Homo sapiens: one gene and its partner. The protein of the gene in region 2 interacts with the protein of the main gene of each other region in a pairwise test. Each region holds a gene or a part of one and is shown on either strand. Other genes may lie near its edges.

What was found. Proteins that work in one complex are often made in the same cells at the same time.
Region 1: the proteins of GLE1 (region 2) and RNF34 interact in binary tests that used the Homo sapiens proteins (3 or more experiments, as listed by UniProt).

The regions. Positions count from the first base shown.
Region 1 is NC_000012.12:121,403,094-121,410,117, forward strand, and holds part of RNF34 (E3 ubiquitin-protein ligase RNF34), read left to right. Parts: intron 1-1,755; exon of another isoform or gene 1,756-2,020; intron 2,021-5,367; exon of another isoform or gene 5,368-5,382; coding exon of another isoform or gene 5,383-5,616; intron 5,617-7,024. Other genes in the region: KDM2B (lysine-specific demethylase 2B), read right to left, coding at 5,383-5,616. UniProt on the Homo sapiens protein: E3 ubiquitin-protein ligase that regulates several biological processes through the ubiquitin-mediated proteasomal degradation of various target proteins.
Region 2 is NC_000009.12:128,521,713-128,528,736, reverse strand, and holds part of GLE1 (mRNA export factor GLE1), read right to left. Parts: intron 6,070-7,024; coding exon 5,921-6,069; intron 5,458-5,920; coding exon 5,397-5,457; intron 5,148-5,396; exon of another isoform or gene 5,146-5,147; coding exon 4,891-5,145; intron 3,546-4,890; coding exon 3,314-3,545; intron 1,559-3,313; coding exon 1,446-1,558; intron 1,282-1,445; coding exon 1,212-1,281; intron 127-1,211; exon of another isoform or gene 1-126. UniProt on the Homo sapiens protein: Required for the export of mRNAs containing poly(A) tails from the nucleus into the cytoplasm. May be involved in the terminal step of the mRNA transport through the nuclear pore complex (NPC).

The DNA of each region.
Region 1 (7,024 bases), on a different chromosome or scaffold from region 2:
TGGCTCTAAATAGGATAAAGAGGCCGGGCGCGGTGGCTCACGCCTGTAGTCCCAGCACTTTGGGAGGCCGAGGCAGGCAGATCACAAGGTCAGGAGGTTGAGACCATCCTGGCTAACACAGTGAAACCCTGTCTCTACTAAAAATACAAAAAATTAGCTGGATGTGGTGGCGGGCGCCTGTAGTCCCAGCTACTCTGGAGGCTGAGGCAGGAGAATGGCGTGAACCCGGGAGGCAGAGTTTGCAGTGAGCCAAGATTGCGCCACTGCACTCCAGCCTGGGCAACAGAGCAAGACTCTGTCTCCAAAAAAAAAAACCAAAACAAAAAAAAAAAAGGATAAAGATTTTGCTTTTTTATCAACTGTTTTTTCTGCTTTGCTTTTAGTTATGTAGGAAAGTTTAACCTAACCAAGATTAAACTGTAAAACCGATTATTTTATATCACCGTTGCTAAGATTTAATACATCTTTTTCCTGTCGTTTAACACAGGACATTGAGTTTTAGCAAACTGAAGGTTGTCCAGAGTTTGAAACAAACCCTGGACATATAGTGGGTGAGTTCTCTGAGGAAGCTTTCATTGATGGAAGAACAGTATCGCTCCTTGGTCCTTGTAGATTCATGTAGCATCTGAGACAATTATTTTTGAATTTAAAACTTCTAGGTTCATCCTTAAAATAACTGTGTAAATAATATATTTAACTTAGAGTTATGGCAAGCAAGGTAGACGCTTATGAGAAGAGTCTATGGGTTTATTATTACATTGCTATTTACCTAGTTTAATAAAAAGTGAATGACTGTGTAGTAACATATTAGAGTTTTGGCAAGCAAGATAGACTCTTACGAGAAGAGTCTATGGCATTATTATTACCTTGCTATTTACCTAGTTTAATAAAAAGTGAATGACTTAGATCATTTAGTTTTCTGTTTCTTTTTTTTTTTTTTGAGATGGAATCTCACTCTGTCGCCAGGCTGGAGTGCAGTGGCACGATCTCAGCTCACTGCAACCTCTGCCTCTCGGGTTCAAACAGTTCTCCTGCCTCAGCTTCCCAAGTAGCTGCCATGCCCGGCTAATTTTTTTTTTTTTTCTTCGTATTTAGTAGAGACGGAGTTTCACAATGTTGCCCAGGCTGGTCCCAAACTCCTGAGCTCAGGCAGTCCACTTGCCTTGGCCTCCCAAACTGCTAGGATTACAGGCTTGAGCCATGGCACCTGGCCTAGTTGTCTGTTTTCATACTCATAAACTTTCTTTTCCCACTCTCCCCCTATACTTCTCTTGTGTCTGGCTGTCATTTAATCTTTTTTTTTTTTTTTTTTTTTTTTTGAGATGGAGTCTCTCTTTGTTGCCCAGGCTGGAGTGCGGTGGCACCATCTCAGCTTACTGCAGTCTCCGCCTCAAGTGATTCTCCTGCCTCAGCCTCCTGTGTAGCTGGGACTACAGTTGTGCACCACCACACCCAGCTAATTTTTTTTGGTATTTTTAGTAGAGACCGGGTTTCACCATCTTGGCTAGGCTGGTCTTGAACTCCTGACCTCAAGTGATTCTGGCCTCCTAAAGTGCTGGGATTAGAGGTGTGAGCTACTGCGCCCAGCCTGTCATTTAATCTTCATGGAAACTACCATAGCTTTTCTGATTCTTCGTTCTAGTCTGGCTGGTTGATAATATATTTAATGGAATCATTAAAAGTTTAGGGTTGAAAATTTGTGGTAAATTTGTGAATTCTTTAAATTGAGCATTTTGAAGTATTTTCTCCCCACAGGGATTCTGAAAACATATTAGATTATACACACACAGAAGCAAAGACAGCTGAACCTTGAGGCCATTTGAAAATCCTGGCACTGTGCCAGAAAGAGAGCTGGGCTGCTGCTCTTGCAAAGAAACAGAACACCTTTCCTCTTGCTTTTGTTGACTGTAATGATGTTTCATGGGCTTATATTGTTTGACTCTGACTGAGGAACCTGAGAGAGTCCTTATAACCTTATTGGCTGGAAACTGTCATTCCTACTCTTACGCAGATTATTTAGGTTTGTATTCTTTCCCCTCCCATTTGCTTCCTCTCCTTTGCTCCTACAGAGGGGAGGGGGCTTCTAATTCATTTTTGGGGAGGGAACAGTATGGGAGAAACACTGTCAGTCTCTGCTATGGGAGGAAAAAGAGGGACTTGAATATTGAGGAGTTTCAGTGAAGGAACTGACATGCTTGGCTCAGTACTTTCTGGGACCTTCTCACATTTGTCTTCCTGTAGTGAAGATGGAGTTCTGGTCTCCACTCAACTAGCTGGTAAGCTGCTCTTGGTCAGCTGTATATTATCCAGACTTGGCTACAGAGCTAAGGTTCTGTTCTCCAGTTGATGCTATCAGTAAAAACAAACATTTTAATTTCCATTTGTCTTCTTGCTTTTTTTTTCTTTTTGAGACAGGGTCTTGCTCTGTCACCTAGGCTGGAGTGCAGTGGTGCAATCTCTGCTTACCGCAACCTCCGTCTCCCAGGTTCAAGCAGTTCTCCTGCCTCACCCTTCTGAGTAGCTAGGATTACAGGCATCCACCACCATACCTGGCTAATTTTTGTATTTTTAGTAGAGACGGGGTTTCACCATGTTGACCAGGCTGGTCTGGAACTCCTGACCTCAGATGATCCTCCTGCCTCGGCCTCCCAAAGTGCTGGGATCACAGGCGTGAGCCACCGTGTCCGGCCTCTGTCTTATTTCTTTTTTTTTTTTCTTGAGACGGAGTCTTGCTCTGTTGCCCAGGCTGGAGTGCAGTGGTGCAATCTCGGCTCACTGCAAGCTCTGCCTCCCAGGTTCACGCCATTCTCCTGCCTCAGCCTCCTGAGTAGCTGGGACTACAAGTGCCTGCTACCACGTCCAGCTAATTTTTTGTATTTTTAGTAGAGACGGGGTTTCACCATGTTAGCCAGGATGGTCTCGATCTCCTGACCTTGTGATCTGCCTGCCTCGGCCTCCCAAAGTGCTGGGATTACATGAGCCACCGTGCCCGGCCTGTCTTATTTCTTAATTAGCTCCAAATTGGATGTGGAAAAAAGGTACTGTTACTGGCTCCCTAAAATCTTGGTGCACTGTCTTTGAAGAAAAGAGGAGAACTGGCATTGGATACCAGAATGACATGAGGATATCTAGGTGTCTGAGGCAGTCCAGGCAGGTTTTAGAATTTGATTTCTTATTATGGAATGTGTAAGTTGTTGTTGTTGTTGTTGTTTGAGACAGACTCTTGCTGTGTCGCCCAGGCTGGAGTGCAGTGGCGTGATCTCAGCTCACTGCAGCCTCCGCCTCCCATTTCAAGTGATTCTTGTGCCTCAACCTCCCCAGTGGCTGGGACTACAGGCACTTGCCACCACGCCTGACTAATTTTTTGTATTTCAGTAGAGATGGCGTTTCACCACGTTGCCCACGCTGGTCTCGAACTCCTGAGCTCAAGCAATCCGCCCACTTCAGCCTCCCAAAGTGCTAGGATTACAGGCGTGAGCCACCGCGCCGGGCTGGTGTTAAGTTTTTAAATACGATACCTGGTTTTTAACTGATATAAGCCAGGCAGACCATGGTCCTATGGTGGCTCTACTGAGAGCAGCTTTGGCTTAAGAGAGTGGGTAGGAAAGGGATTAGACTATCAAGAACAAGTCATTTATTTTTAGTAATCACTGATGACTAGAAAATAAACTCCAAACACAGGTGAATTCTCTGAGCTTGGAGTTTTGTGCTAGGCATAGGCAGACAGTTGCCTCATTCTCTTATTCTCTATGTTGTTTTAAACTACATTCATGGTCAAGAGAGGAAATTTAGCTATCTTCACGATTATCGTTCTTTTTTAAAAATATAATTTCAACTTTTAGATTTGGGGGTACACGTACAGACTTGTTACATGGGTATATTGAGTGACGCTAAAGTTTGGGGTACAGTTGGTCCCGCCAGCAGGTAGTGAACACAGTACCCAACAGTTAGTTTTTCACCCCTTGTTCCTTTCCTCCCTCCTTCCCCCTCCCCCCAGATTATTGTTCTTTCTAAACTGTTAGAAAAAGGGTTATACTTCTTACATACCACTTGGATGCATGTGGTATAACCCATGGAGTTTTGCTGCCAACTAAGGTCCCCAAGTAGGTCATGAAAGCCCAGATCATGGCTTGCATTTTGAAAGTTCCAGACTTTTCAGAGATCTGGCTTTGGGCTTTATTCACGGAGGAGTAACTGTAGGGTTTTTTTCCCCCAATGAACAAATAATGGATGGTGACCCTTCCATAAAGAAGGCACCACTTTGGAATTGAGGCCAGTGAATTGACTGCAAATTCAGAAGCCAAAAGGGTATGCCTAGTATACTGTCAGAAGCCAGAGGTGGGGGTATGCCTAGTATACAACAACTCAGTGAATTGACTGCAAATGCAGAAGCCAAAGGCATATGCCTAGTATACAACAACTCAGTGAACTGACTGCAAATTCGGAAGCCCAAGGGCTACGCCTAGTATGCTGTCTTTCCAGGAATTGAGTTTTCTCAAAATCTAGGAGGAAATGGAGTGGTTTGTAGAAGATGCTTCAATCTTACTATCAGTATGGAAGCAATGAATGAATAAAAGAAAAATAAAGGAATACAGGCTAATTTAACTGGAGGAAGATCTTAAAGTATAGGGAAGACAGAAATGGAACAGGAAAGAACATGAACTTAGGTCTCTAAAGCTTTTAAAAGGAGGGTGCAGAAGAGGGATCCTTGTTGGTTATGACCCTACCGGATATGGTAACTGGGTTCCAAGGAAATATAACAGAGGCAGAGTGTGAAGAGCTCAGAAAATAGATTGGCATATGTTCCCCCCATCCCTTGTCCCCCTCTCCACTGTAAGAGCTCAGATTCAATAAACCCTTGGGGAAATTGTCTTTTAAATAGTTCTCCAATTGCTTTTATAGGTTCTGTCAAGTCATAACAGAAAATGTGGGCCAAGCGTGGTAGCTCATGCCTGTAATCCCAGTGATTTGGGAGGCTGAAGCAGAAGGATCCCTTGAGCCCTGGAGTTTGAGATCAGCCTGGGCAGCATATCAAGACCCCGTCTCTAAAAAAATAAAAATAAATGGCCAGGTGTGGTGGCTCACGCCTGTAATCCCAACACTTTGGGAGGCTGAGGCAGGCAGATCACCTGAGGTCAGGAGTTCGAGACCAGCCTGGCCAACATGGTGAAACCCCGTCTCTACTAAAAATACAAAAAATTACCAGGGTGTGATGGCAGGCACTTGTAATCCCAGCTACTTGGGAGGCTGAGGCACAAGAATCACTTGAACTCAAGAGGCAGAGGTTGCAGTGAGCCAAGATCATACCACCGCACTCCAGCCTGGGTAACAAGAGTGAAACTCTGTCTAAAAAATAAAAATAAAAATAAAAATAAATAAAAACTAGAAAATGTGTACAGATTTAAGAGGGGAAAGATCAGTATAGGACACTTCAAGCACTGTTAGGTGAGTGTCAAGGTGACAGTTGTAGGTAGAGATGCCTTTGCCCTGAGGAGGCATGCAGAATAAATTTCTGAAATTTATGAGAAAGTACAGGAAGATGAAACATACTAAAGGAGAGCCAGGTAGATGGAGTCCAGGCTTGGAAGGATTTATCTTCTGGATGGATTCTTCATCCTGGAGGTGAAGAAGGACAAAAACACTTTGAACAATGGCTGCTTTTGATAGACCCAGAAATCACTGACTTTCTCCTCATATTGGGAGATTTCACACAAGAAAACGTGCAGAGGAGTTAAGGTGGGAAATAAAAGTTGGGGCCCAAAGGCAAAGAGCAAATAAAATCAAGGAGAGCACCAAAGTCCAGCAAAAGTTACAGGCCAATCTGTGGTAAAAAGGAAAGGGATTCATTGAAGAATCAGATTGTTAAAAACTCAGGTGACCCTTTCTTTTTTTTTTTGAGATGGAGTCTTGCTCGGTCACCCAGGCTGGAGTGCAGTGGTACAGTGGCGTGATATCTGCTCACTGCAACCTCCACCTCCCAGGTTCAAACGATTCTCCTGCCTCAGCCTCTCGAGTAGCTTGGACCACAGGCGTGCACCACCATGCCCGGCTAATTTTTGTATTTTTAGTAGAGACGGGGTTTTACCATGTTGGCCAGGCTGGTCTCAAACTCCTGTCCTCAGGTGACCTGCTGGCCTCGGCCTCCCAAACTGCTGGGATTATAGGCATGGACCACAACACTTGGCCAAAACTTAGCTGACCCTTTCTTAAAGGATTGGGTAAAACCAAAGTGGGATGCAAAATACTACATATCCCACAACAGAAAAACATGTAGACAGGTCTTGGGGAGTATGTTGCCGAGGCATTAGTTCCAGAACTCTAGGGCCACAGGCTTCCAAAGTAACCACAGCCCTTTCCACTCAGGAATTTGTGGAGGGTGATGTCCCAGCTGAAACAGTGTAGGCAGGAAGAAGACATCTTCCCTTTGACTGAGCAGGTCTTAAGCTTTTAACCTGGCCTGTATATCAGAATTACCCAGGGAGTTTTCAAAAAAATTCTGGTGCCCAGGCTGCACCACAGACCAGTGAAATCAGAACCTCTGGGCCTGGGACCCCAGGAATCAGTATTTTTAAAGACTTGCCTGGTGAGTCCAACATGCAGCCAAGGCTGAAAACCATTCTCTTAAGGGCAGTTTCACAACCCTAGGCAATTCCTTAGCAAGAAGTACTGACAGCAGCTACGAAGGTACAGGACTAAAACACCTGTTTCACTGAAGGGCAGCGGGGGTGGGTGTTACCTGGCACTTCAGTGCTAAAATGAATGTAAAGAAATTATGTTCATGGCCAGGCGTGGTGGCTCATACCTGTAATCCCAGCACTTTGGGAAGCCGAGGCGGGCGGATCATCTGAGGTCAGGAGTTCGAGACCAGCCTGACCAACATGGAGAAACCCTGCCTCTACTAAAAATACAAAATTAGCCGGGCATGGTGGCAGATGCCTGTAATCCCAGCTACTAGGAGGCTGAGGCAGCAGAATCGGTTGAACCTGGGAGGTAGAGGTTGCGGTGAGCCAAGATCGTGCCATCG
Region 2 (7,024 bases):
GGACAGAAGCAAAGCCTGCAAGTCACAGCCTAGGTTCCCTGAGTGATGTTTTCAGCAGTAAACTGCAACTTCAAAGCTAAGAGCCATCCTAATAATTTGCCATAAAAGGTAGCTTGTTAAAAATGAGTCAAAAAGGCCGGGTGCAGTGACTCACGCCTGTAATCCCAGCGCTTTGGGAAGCTGAGGCGGGCGGATCACAAGGTCAGGAGGTCGAGACCATCCTGGTTAACACGGTGAAACCCCGTGTCTACTAAAAATACAAAAAATTAGCTGGGCGTGGTGGCGGGCAGCTGTAGTCCCAGCTACTTGGGAGGCTGAGGCAGGAGAATGGCGTGAACCCGGGAGGCAGAGCTTGCAGTGAGCCGAGATTGCGCCACTGCACTCCAGTCTGGGTGACAGAGCAAGACTACATCTCAAAAAAAAAAAAAAAGGGGGCTGGGCACAGTGGCTCACGCCTGTAATCCCAGCCCTTTGGGAGGCCGAGGCAGGTGGATCACCAGGTCAGGAGATTAAGAACATCCTGGCTAACACAGTGAAACCCCGTCTCTACTAAAAATACAAAAAATTAGCCGGGTATGGTGGTGGGCGCCTGTAGTCCCAGCTACTCAGAAGGCTGAGGGAGGAGAATAGAACAGCGTGAAGCCGGTAGGCGGAGCTTGCGGTGAGCCGAGATCACGCCACTTCACTCCAGCCTGGGCGACAGAGCAAGACTCTGTCTCAAAAAAAAAAAAAAGAAAAAAAGAAAAAAAAAAGAGTCTTCTTTTTTTGTTTTTGAGACAGAGTCTCGCTCTGTCACCCAGGCTGGAGTGAAGTGGTGTGATCTCGGCTCACTGCAATCTCCGCCTCCTGGGTTCAAGCAATTGTCCTGCCTCAGCCTCCTGAGTAACTGGCATTATAGGTGAGAGCCACCACACCCAGCTAGTATTTGTATTTTTAGTAGAGACAGGGTTTCACTATGTTGGTTAGGCTGCTCTTGAACTCCTGACCTCGTGATCCGCCCACCTCGGCCTCCCAAAGTCCTGGGATTACAGGCGTGAGCCCAGCCATGATTATATCAGGGAAACAAGATGTATGTCACTTATATGTACCCGATCCAACTGTAAACATTTGTTTGAATATACTTTTATAGGAACCTTACAGATACATAGATTTGGAGTCTGAAAGATAATACAATGAAATGAAAGGTCATGTTCTCAACCCCTCTGACCAACCTGCAATGGTAGAGATTTGGCTCACTGGGATGGTAGCAGCCTTCTGGAGGTCCATCTTTATCTTTTTGGCCTGCCAGAAGAGAACAGTGAGAAAGCAGTGTTCTGAAGAGCTGAGTAGATGTCACTTAGAATCAGGTAAAGTGACATGCCAGCTACATTCCTTTGGGACACGAAGTGATCATTCTCTGAGAACCATCAAGTCCACAAAATTACTGCCATATACCTCTCCCCTACCTGACTGTCCTTGCTGTTGGTCAGGCCCTCAAAGGTCAACACACACTGCATGGAAGCATCCTGCAGCTGCTGGTACCACTGCATTGTAATGTCTTGTACCTTCACCTGGAGGTCTGAGAAATAAAAGAGAGGTTTTAGTAATAGCTAGTATTTACTGAACATGTAATATGAGGCAGGCACTGTTATAATCACTTTATGTATGTACTGACTGCTTTAACTGTCACCATAACTATGAAATAGATACTATTATTATCTCCATTTTATAGAAAAGGAAACAGGCACAAAAAGGTTAAGTGATTTGCCATGGTCACATTACTACTAAGTAGAAAAACTAAGGCTGGGTGTGGTGACCCACGCCTATAATTACAGTACTCTAGGAGGCCAAGACAGGCCCAGGAGCTTGAGACCAGCTTGCACAACATGGTGAAATCCCATCTCTACAAAAAATACACAAATTAGCCAGGCAGGGTGGCGCATGCCTGTAGTCCCAGTTACTTGGGAGGCTGAGTGGGGAGGATCACTTGAGCCTGGGAGGGTGAGGCTATAGTGAGCCATAATCATACCACTGTACTCCTCCAGCCTGGGTAACAAGAGTGAGACTCCTATCTCAAAAAAAAAACAAAAAACAAAAAACGCTGGGCGCAGTGGCTCATGCCTATAATCCCAGCACTTTGGGAGGCCAATGCTGGCAGATCACCTGAGGTCGGGAGTTCGAAACCAGCCTGACCAACATGGAGAAACCCCGTCTCCACTAAAAATACAAAAAAATTAGCCAGGTGTGGTGGTGCATGCCTGTAATCTCAGCTACTCAGGAGGCTGAGGCAGGAGAATCGCTTGAACCTGGGAGGCGGAGGTTGTAGTGAGCTGAGATTGTGCCATTGCACTCCAGCCTGGGCAACAAGAGCAAAACTCTGTCTCAAAAAAAACAAAAACAAAAACAAAACACACCAAAAAAGAAAAATTAGACTCCCAGGCTGGGTGCGGTGGCTCACACCTGTAATCCTAGCATTTTGGGAGGCCGAGGCGGGTGGATCATGAGGTCAGGAGTTTGAGACCAGCCTGGCCAACGTGGTGAAATCCCATCTTTACTAAAAATACAAAAATTAGCCAGGCACAGTGGCAGGCACCTGTAATCCCAGCTACTCGGGAGGCTGAGGCAGGAGAATTGTTTGAACCCGGGAGGCAGAGGTTGCAGAGAGCCAAGATCGCGCCACTGCAATCCAGCCTGGGCAACAAGAGCAAATCTCCATCCCCTCCCCGCAAAAAACAACAACAACAACAACAACAACAAAAACCAGACTCCCACTGATCTGGCTCCAGAGTCAGCACTCTCAAACACTATGGTACACTGATTCTTTTTCTTTTTTTGAGACGGAGTCTCACTCTGTCACCAGGTTGGAGTGCAGTGGCACCACCTCAGCTCACTGCAACCTCCAGCTCCTGGGTCAAGCAATTCTCCTGCCTTAGCCTCCCGAGTAGCTGGGACTACAGGTGCGTGCCACCATGCCCAGCTAATTTTTTTATTTTTGGTAGAGATGGGAGTTTCGGCATGTTGGCCAGGCTGGTCTCGAACTCCTGACCCCTTATACGTATTACACCAACACATATCTGTGCGCATTTATTTAAAATACTCAGCAGCAGCAATAATTGAAATAATGTATCTGCTAGAGTTATACAGAATTTCAAGTCCTCACGCAAAGTGTTGGAATCGTAAATCAGACTCTACATCAACCAAAACTGAATGAAATACATTACATAAAATTCTGGTTAACTGTCCTACAGTTTAACACAACATTCAAAACATGCTCTTGTTTCTCTTCACATTTGAAACTTACGAGTTAAAGGACCACATCCATACTGAAACCCACCTTCATTCTGTTTCCCTCCTGGGCCCTGGCTGGGAGCTGGGGGCTCTTTGTGGGCCTCTGGTCCCTGCTGCATCTGTGCCTCTTGCAGCTTTACCTGGGCCTCTTCTTCATCCTGCCTCCTCTTGTCTTCGCAGGCTCTGGTGATCTCCTGCCCCAAGTTCATCAGGAGGTCCCGCATTTCCCGCAGAGCTCGCTCAGCCTCAGCTTGACTCTCTGCTGTGGGATAGCTGCTCTGTCAGAGTGACGGAGATGGTGCTTAGTGGTCATTCCCTAGGTAAATCATACCTCATACAAGTCAATAAATTTCCTGCAATTGGAATTGTTGCACCAATGGAGTATCCACATTCAACGAATTGATACTTCTTTCCCTGTTCTCTTAAAGGTATTAATAATTCCAACTTACTGTCACATCCATAGTTTCTAAGTATAAATTGGTCTGTATTCTCAGCAACAAGGGCCAGCGTAATTTTTTAAAAAGTTTGTGACAATATGTTAGACAAAAATAATACTGTTTTATTATAATAATAATTATTTTTTGAGACAGAATCTCCATTGCCCAGGTTGGAGTGCAGTGGCAAGATCTCGGTCATTGCAACCTTTGCCTCCCAGGTTCAAGTGCTGCTCGTGCCTCAGCTTCCCAAGTAGCTGGGATTACAGGTGTGCGTCACCACACCCAGCTAATTTTTGTATTTTTAGTAGAGACTGGGTTTCACCATGTTGGCTGAAACCTACTGGTCTCGAACTCCTAGCCTCAAGTAATCCGAGAATCGCTTGAACCTGGAAGCCGGAGGTTGAAGTGAGCCATGATCACACCACTGCACTCCAGCCGGGGCAAGAGTGTGAGACCCTGTCTCAAAAAAAAAAAAAAAAAAAAAAAAAAAAAGCAAAGCAAAGAAACAGGGCAGGTACAATGGCTCGTGCCTGTAACCCCAATACTTCGGGAGGCTAAGGTGGGAGGATCACTTCAGCCCAGGAGTTCAAGACCAGCCTGGGAAACATAGTGAGATCTCTATTGCTAATTTAAAAACAAAACGAAACAAAAAAAGTTTGGCACCGTGGCTCACACCTGTAATCTCAGCAGTTTGGGAGGCCGAAGTAGGGGGATCACTTCAGCCCAGGAGTTAGAGACCAGCCTGAGCAACATGGCAAAACCCTGTCTCTACAAAAAAATACAAAAATTAGCAGGGCATGGTGGTATGCGCCTGTAGTCCCAGCTACTCAGGAGACTGAGGTGGGAGGATCACTTGAGCCCGGGAGGCAGAGGTTGCATGAGCTGAGACTGTGTTACTGCACTCCAGCCTGGGTGACAAAGGGGAACCCCATCACAAAAAAAAAAAAAAAAAAAAAAAAAGACTCCAGAATAAGCAGGTATAAAAATAAAGAAATAAATAAAAGAAACAAAATAAAATGTTAACAGTGGTTACTTCTAGGTAAAGAGATATGGAGATAACAAGTAATGTTTGGTATTTCCCCCAATAAGCAGATAGCAGGTATTACTTTTTAAGTCAGAAAACAGTTTTGCTTTTAAAGGCTTCCATTTCAAAGACAGCAAAGAGTCACTCTGAAGCCCCCCTCACCTCTGAAGAGGCCCGGATGATCCCTGAGATGAGGCTGCACAGCTGGTTGCCTCGGGTCTGGAAGGCAGCCAGGTCGACCTTAAGCAGGGCTTTGTGCTGCTCAGAGGCATCCAGCTGCTGGCTGAGCTGCAGCATCTCCTCCTGCAGAGCATAGAGGGCCCGCAGGCGGATCTGGCCTTCTTCCTTCCGAAGCCGCTCCTGTTCTGCTTGCTTCACGCGCTGCTGCTCTGCTTCCCGCAGCTTCAGGTTGAGAATCTGTAGAAAAGGGCTGAGTGACTTCTCTCTGAGGGGTTCCTGGGCTTCTTCTTTCTACAGTCCTCAAATTCTACGTGGGCTACATATTTTCACAGATGGGCTCAGAGCAGGAAGAGGACATCCCAAGGTTAGTCATACACAGGCATAATACGGCCCAGATCCTCCATGGTGGCCATCTGCCAAAACCTGGCTCTCCAGGCAGGTTACAGACAGACACCAAAACACCCACACCAATTCTGCCAGGCTCTGACCTTTGCTCTGTGACGGTGCTCAGCTTTTAGCTTCTCTTGGTGTCCCAAGGCTTCTCTGGAGCTGCATGAAAAATGGCAGGGAGGAATAGTCAGGGATACTTCCTGAAATTGTTTTTCTTTCTTTCTTTTCTCTCCCTCTCCCTGCCCTCCCTTCCCTTCCTTCCCTTTTTCTTAGAGATGGGGTCTCGTTATGTTGCCCAGGCTGCAGAGCATAGCTCACCACAGCCTCAAACTCCTGGACTCAAGCAATCCTCCTGCCTCAGCCTCTCTAGTAATTGAGACTACAGCTGTGTTCCACCACGCCCGTAAAATTGTTTTACCTCTCCTAAAAGCCTCCCTCTTTGTGTTCCTTTGGTTGTCTCTCCAAGTTTGGTCTTTTTTCCAGGTTATAAAATTCTCTGCCTATTTTACCTTGATATTTAAGGACTCAGAAGTTGTTCAACTCTTTCCCTTTGGAATTCCTCTTGGGAAAGAGTTCCAGTTGAACACATCAACATTCCCAGTCATAATTCAGGGAGACTCACCTCTTCTCCATTACTTCCCGCAAGTCCTGGAATTCTTTATGCTGCTTCAGTTCCTTCCATTCATCAAACCGCTTCAGTTGTTCAGATGCCATCTCCGAGAGGGCTTGCACCTTCCTCTCCTGCTCCTCCTGCCATAGCCTCAGGCCCTCCTGAAAAGGTTTTTTTTTTTTTTTTTTTTTTTAAGATGGAATCTCTCTCTGTCGCCAGGCTGGAGTGCAGCTCACTGCAACCTCCAACTCCCGGGTTCAAGCGATTCTTGTCTCAGCTCCCCAAGTAGCTGGGACTACAGGTGCCTGCCACCATGCCCAGCTAATTTTTGTATTTTTAGTAGAGACGGTTTCACCATGTTGGCCAGGATGGTCTTGATCTCTTGACCTTGTGATCCGCCTGCCTTGGCCTCCCTAAGTGCTCGGATTACAGGCGTGAGCCACCTCGCCCGGCCGAAAATGTTTAACACCTGCTCTCTGGAGCGCCTTCAACACCTTGATCATTTACCCCTGCGGGCTACCTGCCCATCGGCCCCTAACACCATCAGAGATACTTAAGGGCATGGAATCAGAACCTTTGCAGGAATATCCTTTCTCCTTTTGCTTGATCTTTAAGCTCAGCTGTTTTGGAAAGCTCTTCCAATTGCCCCATATGGTTTATGTCACTCCAGTACAAGTTGGGAACGGACAGGAATTTAGCAACATGACATCAAACAGCCATGCACTATTAAGCTTCCATCCTGTGTAGTCTTATGGGGTTCATTGGTAATTTACGGAAATCCTCATTCTAATTCCATAAACAAGCTATACACATTCCTATCTCACTGATTTTGTTAATCTCTGCCTCGAAGATTTTCTCCTGGACCTCCACTAAGGAAAGTCCTTTTCCTTAGTACCTAAGGGTATCAGATATTGAATTTATCATTTCATGAGAGTACTCACATATGGTTAAAGGCAATTTGACATTTTAACTATCAAAATTTGAAGTGTCTATATCCTTTGACACTTGTTCCATTTCAGGAATTTATCCTGAGGAAATGCTTGTATGTGTGTGCAAAGATATATGTACAAGAATGCTCACTGGAGCCCTGTTGATAACAGCAATACATTTAAAACC